Homo sapiens: one gene and its partner. The protein of the gene in region 2 interacts with the protein of the main gene of each other region in a biochemical or structural test. Each region holds a gene or a part of one and is shown on either strand. Other genes may lie near its edges.

The links.
Region 1: the proteins of ADNP (region 2) and KPNA4 interact in a test that uses a peptide from one of them, tested with the Homo sapiens proteins (one study listed by BioGRID).

The regions. Positions count from the first base shown.
Region 1 is NC_000003.12:160,494,507-160,497,039, reverse strand, and holds the end of KPNA4 (importin subunit alpha-3), read left to right. Parts: 3' UTR 1-2,033; downstream 2,034-2,533. UniProt on the Homo sapiens protein: Functions in nuclear protein import as an adapter protein for nuclear receptor KPNB1. Binds specifically and directly to substrates containing either a simple or bipartite NLS motif.
Region 2 is NC_000020.11:50,896,667-50,900,702, forward strand, and holds part of ADNP (activity-dependent neuroprotector homeobox protein), read right to left. Parts: intron 1-4,036.

The DNA of each region.
Region 1 (2,533 bases), on a different chromosome or scaffold from region 2:
ATTGATAAAAAACTAAGCACACCAATCATGTATAAGAAAAGTAGATTTAACATTTTTTTCCCTAAACACTTAACCCAGAAGTTAACAATAATCTTGAAAATTCCTTTTAAATCCAGGCCCTTTAGGTGATGGCAGTTTGACTCAGGATGTCCAAGTCCAGTGTATTTTCAATAAAATTGACTTGACAGCTACTGCTCTGGGTGTAAGAGCAGTTGACTGTGAGGAAAAGTAAATGGTTCTACAGATTCTTTATGATCTACCTCCCACCAGAGGACTGCAGTACTCCCTTGTTATTTATATTTTCTGCCCCAATTTTTGCCTTCTCCACAAATTTTATACCTTTTGTAGCTGCCTACTCCAGATTACTTCACCTTTCCAGACTATCAGTTCTTCCACTTTTATTCTTCATAAAGAAAATTCCAATAACCTGTTTCACTTAGGTTTTTCTATTACTCTTCAAGCATGAATCCTAATTTCCCTGACTATATCTTACCTCTGATCTCCATAACTGATGGATTCCTATCCTAGACTATGTTACTCTAATATTACCCAAGATTTTCTCCAGCCTGTTTTTACTCTTACTTTGAAACAGCTGTTTAAAATGACTCGTAATCTGCTTAAATCTACATGCTTTTTGTGGTTCTCAATCCAGTTACCTACCTTCCAGATAATTCCCTCACTGTCCTGTCCTCTCCATTCCTCTGATGTTTAAGCCCTGTGAGCCACCTTTCCCCCATCCTTTGTGCATAGTTACCATTTTACTCTTTCTTGTTGCCCAGGCAGGAATGCAGTGGTGCCATCTTGGCTCACTGCAACCTCCACCTCCTAGGTTCAAGCGATTCTCCTGCCTCAGCCTCCTGAGTAGCTGGGACCACAAGCGTGCACCACCACGCCCGGCTAATTTTTGTATTTTTAGTAGAGATGGGGTTTCACCACGTTGGCCAGGCTGGTCTCGAACTCCTGACCTCAGATGATCCACCCTCCTTGGCCTCCCAAAGTGCTGGGATTGCAGGCGTGAGCCACCGCCTGGCCACCATTTTACTCTTTTTAGGTACAGTAATCTAATATCCAAAGTCTTGGACTCAGCTAAAGAGGGTATTTACCTTAAAAAAAAAAAAAAAAAGACTCCATCTTTTGATTCATAATTGTGGTGGGGGCGGGGAATCAAGACAACCTTAGTCACTTTGGTATTACCATAATTCTTGTCTTTTCAGGGTTGTCCTGTTCAGCTGCATAAAACATCATGTATTCTAGGTATTTCCTACCTTCACTTACATTTTTACTTGCCGATGTGCTGCCTTCATAAATGGGTATATTCCGCCACACATCTAGTAAGCCCCCAATGCAGTACACAATGTGTATCACTGATAAAACTCGCACTTCTGCCATGTCAGTATTATATTCAGTTGAGTGGTCTTTAGCATAGTGGCAGTCCTAGTCATCCTAACCTTTTAGTTAAGGTAAAATTACATATGTTTATAGAACTCATATAGACAAGCTAGTTTTTAAAATCTTCCTTTTAACCAGTTTAGGATGATCTAGGATAGCTAAGTTACCTACATGGTGACTGTTCGGTCTAATTCAGAAACAGAAGTACTAAAAGAATACTAAAAAGTTTTTACCCATTATCTCTATCCCTGTTTTCTTTTTGCAATTCTCAGCTGCAGGGAGCAAGAAAATACACAGCAGATAGGAAATGTTTGTTTGCATCCTGGCTTTCTCAACCGCACTTTACGTCCTTGAATATTCTAGATATTTACTCCTTCAAGAAGTCAGGAGTATATCCAGGCCTACCTATCATCCTTGCCATCCCCATTAACCCTCATTTTTCAGTATGTGTTTTACATTTATGGTTATTTTTCAGTCTATAGTATCTGTTCACTCATTGCTCTATCACATCTGAGTTTCTCCGTCTTTCTTTCCACTAGATTGTAAGCTCCTTAAGGGCAAGGTCGGCATATAAGCAAAGTTCTGTAAACACCGTGAAGGTACCATGAGTTCTATGGGTACTCAATAAATGCTTGTGATAATGATGCAATTTCTCAGATGAACTGATTGTAGTGACTACCTCTAAAAGCCTTCAATCTACAGTTTTTAAATTTGTCTCATTGCATCTGAGTTTTAGAAAGCCTTCGATAGAAAGGGAAGATACTTCATAGCTTGCCAGATGAATGCCCATTTCCTTATTTCCTTTTCCTCACTTTTGATATTTTGCCCAGTGTCTGGTCTGGATATCTGACATCCATAAGGGTATTGAAATGGATCCTTGTGTGGTTTTCAGATACCAGTTATATATATTATGAAGCAGAGGTAACCTAATATTGTCTAACACTATTGATACAGTTTATATTTTGGAAATACTGTATGGATGATTTATTGAAATAACTTATAATAAGATATTTTACAAGGAAATATCCAAACCACAAAGTTAAGTGATTGCTGTTTTGGTCAGTCAGCTATAGTATGAAATTATTAGAATGCTTTGGTTTATTTATGTATGTGAAGTTATTTTATCCCTATGTGCTTCAGTTTC
Region 2 (4,036 bases):
TTCCACCTTTACATCTTGTCCCACTGGAGGGTCTTCAGGAACAGTAACACACATGGAACTGCCATCTCCCATGGTAACAATGCCTTCTTCTGGATAACTGCAGAAGGACCTGCCTTAGGCTTTTCTTGAGGAGGTCTCACACTTACCAAGAATAAGCCCACGGTGCTTTGTTTCCTTTTTTCATCATAGATTTGATTGTAAGCAGATAATGAACCATGAATATTCTTCTCTATTAATAAAAACCTTTTGGTATTGAGATCCATGTTTTCAAACTTTTTTGTTGTTGTTTGAGATGCAGTTTTTTTGCTCTTGTCACCCAAGCTGGAGTGCAATGGCACAATCTCGGCTCACTGCAACCTGCACTTCCCGGGTTCAAGCGATTCTCCTGCCTCAGCCTCGTGGCTGGGATTACAGGCGCCCCACCACCACGCCCGGCTAATTTTTTTGTATTTTTAGTAGAGACGGGGTTTCACCATGTCGGCCAGGCTGGTCTTGAACTCCTGACCTCAGATGATCCACCAGCCTCGGCCTCCCAAAATGCTGGGATTACAGGCGTGAGCCACCAAGCCCGGCCACGTGTTTTCAGACTTAAGGAGCTTGCTGAGGTCTGCACTGCTAAATCCTTCACTGAATTTTCTTGAGGGTTCTTCTTTTGCTTTTCCTGCAGTTTCCTTTTCTCTTTCCTCTTCACCTATGCGGGAACTTGTTCTAGTTCCCACAGCTCCTCACCAGTCAATTCCTCAGGAATCACCTCTAGGAGCTCCTGTTGTCCTCATCCACACCCCGGTTAAAGTTGTTTGCCATCTCAATCACAGACTTTGTGATTTATGCAAATCCTTTTAAGTCATGGACAAACCTCTTGAGTGTATTCTTCCAGATGCCATTCATACACTCCTTGATGACATCAACCCAAGCCCAAGCAAGATTCTTAATGCAGTCACAGATATTGCAATCCTTCCAGAATTGTATCAGAATCTTCTCAGTGTCTCCCTAAGCTGCGACGACAGGACAAAGGCCTTTCTCAGATAGTACGCCTTAAAAGCTGCTGTAACTCCATCAGTTGGATCAAAGAGGTGGTGTTTGATACTGGGATGAAAAACACCACTTAAAGGAGGCATTTGCTTATCAGCGACAATAAGCAAAAGCTTGAAGGGTATGTTATTCTCTCAATACTACTTCTCCACTTCGCAGGCATATCTATTCAGGAGGGCATCTTGAAAGAGGAGCAGGGTCACCCACGACTTCTTATATCTCCTGCAGTGCACTGGCCAAGTGTGTGTGTATTGATATGCTTGAAGCCCCTAGGGTTCTCAACATGCCAAATCACAAAGGGTTTCAATTTGTGGCCTGCAACATTGCCCCCAAGCAAGACTGTCATCCAGTCCTTAAAAGACTTGAAGCCTGGCATTGCTTTGGTCTACCTCATGGATCAAAGTCCTTTCAGGCATCTGTTTCCAGAATAGAAAGGTTTCATCCATATTGAAAATTTGTTCTGGCAAGTGATTTTCCTCCAGACTCAGCTTATCTAGAGTTTCCCAAAATTCTTCCGCTGCCTTTACATCAGCACTCACAAACTCACCACTTTCCCATTATGTAATGAATAACGATTCTTGAATTGTTTACACCACCCAGAACTAGCAGTCAATTCAACATCACAGCCAGGTCCAGCCTTTTCTTTCAACACCTCAAACACACTTTTTGCTTTGGGATCATCATGGTGCTGAGAGGTACACAGCACCGTGTGCACCTGTGTCTGCTCTTCAATCCAGGTCATCAGAAGCTTGTGTGTGTCTGATAAAGGCCCTTCTTGAATTTTTGTTAGTCTCATTGCCTTCAATGAAGCAGATGCTTTAACAGCTTCTGTCACTTTGTTCTTGTTCTTCAAGATCATAGCTATGGTAAAATGGGACAAGCCTGACTGGCAAGAAATAACCATCACTGATTCTCCACCTTCGTAGTCCTTAATCACTTCTGTTTCCAGGTCAATCACTCAACATGGCCCCTTACTGGCAACATTATGGATTTTGTATGCTTAGGGGCCATGATGAACAAAATACCATGAGATTAAACCATGCACAAGAATGATGCAATCAAGAGACACAGTGAACACAAGCTGTATGAGGCTGCTACCAGTTACCATGAAAAGCTGTTTTAAAAAGTAGGAGTACACTCTAAAATAAAAAGTATATATAGTAAATACATAAACTGGCAATACGGTTTTTAACTGTCATTATCAGGAAGTCATGTGCTGATGTTTTCTGTCTAGTACAGACTGCATATGGGACTATGTTCCCCCAAGATTATAACGGGGCTGAAAAATTTCTGTCACCTAGTATTTACTATACAGTTGACTCTTCAACAACATAGGTTTGAACTGCTTATATGTGGATTTTTTCCAAACAAATGTAGATCAAAGATACAGTATTCTTGGGATGCTCAAACCCTCTTATACAGAGGGCTAGCTTTTGGTATATGCAGGTTCTCCAGGGCCAACTGTGGGACTTAAGTATGCAAGGATTTTGGTAATGAGGTTTTTTTTTTTTTTTTGAGATGAAGTCTTGCTTTTGTCCCCCAGGCTGGAGTGCGATGGCACGATCTCAGCTCACTGCAACCTCCACCTCCCAGGTTCAAGCGATTCTCCTGCCTTCCCCGCTCCCACTTCCAACCTCCAGTAGCTGGGATTACAGGCATCTGCCACCACACCTGGCGAATTTTCGTATTTTTAGTAGAGAGGGGGTTTCACCATGTTGGCCAGGCTGGTCTCGAACTCCTGACCTCAGGCGATCCACCTGCCTCGGCCTCCCAAAGTGCTGGGATTATAGGCATGAGCCCAGCGCCCGGCCGGTAATGAGTTTTTAATCATTATTTGAGTGTACCACTTACTTCTATATTTTTTAAAAAAAAGTTAACTCTAAAACAGCCTCAGCCAGATCCTTCAGGAGGTATCTAGAAGACGACACTGCCATCACAGGAAATGATGGCTCCATGCGTGTTACTGCTCCTGAAAACCTTCCAGTGAGACAAGCTGTGAAGGTGGCAATGGTAATACCATTGATCTTGACCCTGTGTAGGCCTAGGCTAATTATGTCTGTGTCTTAGTTTTTAACAACAGTTTAAAAAGTTAAAAAAAAAAAAAAAGTTTAAGACTAGGAAAAAGCCTGTAAGCATATGAAGACAAAATATTTTTATACAGCTGTACAATTTTTTTTTTTTTTTTTTTTGGAGCGGTAGCAAGATTCATTATGAAGAGTGAAAGGACAAAGCTTCCGCAGTGTGGAAGGGGACCCGGGCAGGTTGCCGTGTTTGTGTTTTAAGCTAAGTGTTATTACAAAAGATTCAGAAGTTAAGAATTTTAAAGTTTTACTTTTTATGTAGCCTAAGTGTGTTTATAAAGTCTACAGTGATGTACAATAATGTCCCTTCATATTCAGTCACCACTCAGAGCAACTTCCAGTCCCGCAAGTGCCCAATATAGGTGTACCAATTTTTCTTTTATATTGCATTTTTACTGTACCTTTTCTATGCTTCACTATGTTTAGAAACACAAATACTTACCATTGTGTTAATCACTCTTATAGTATTCAGTATATAGTATTCTCTTATAGTAACATGCCATACAAGTTTGTAGCCTAGGAGCAACAGGCCATACCATATAGCGTAGGGGTAATAGGAGGCTATACCACCTAGGTCTGTGTAAGTACCCTTTATGATGTTTGTACAACAATGACATCACCTAACAGGGCATTTCTCAGAATGCATCCCATCATTAAGCAATGCACGACGGTATTATACGCTGTAAATAACTGTATGTGCTATACTTCTATGACTGGCAGCACAGGTGTGTTTACATTAGTATCACTACAAACATGAATCATATGTTGCGCTATGATGTCATAAGGTAGCAAGTTTTTCAGCTCAATTATATTCTTATGGGACCACTGTCGTAGATGTAGTTCATCACTGACCAAAATGTCGTTATGTGGTGAATGACTGCGGTAAAATTCAGGGCCCACGATGTTTTAGTGCAATTAGACAA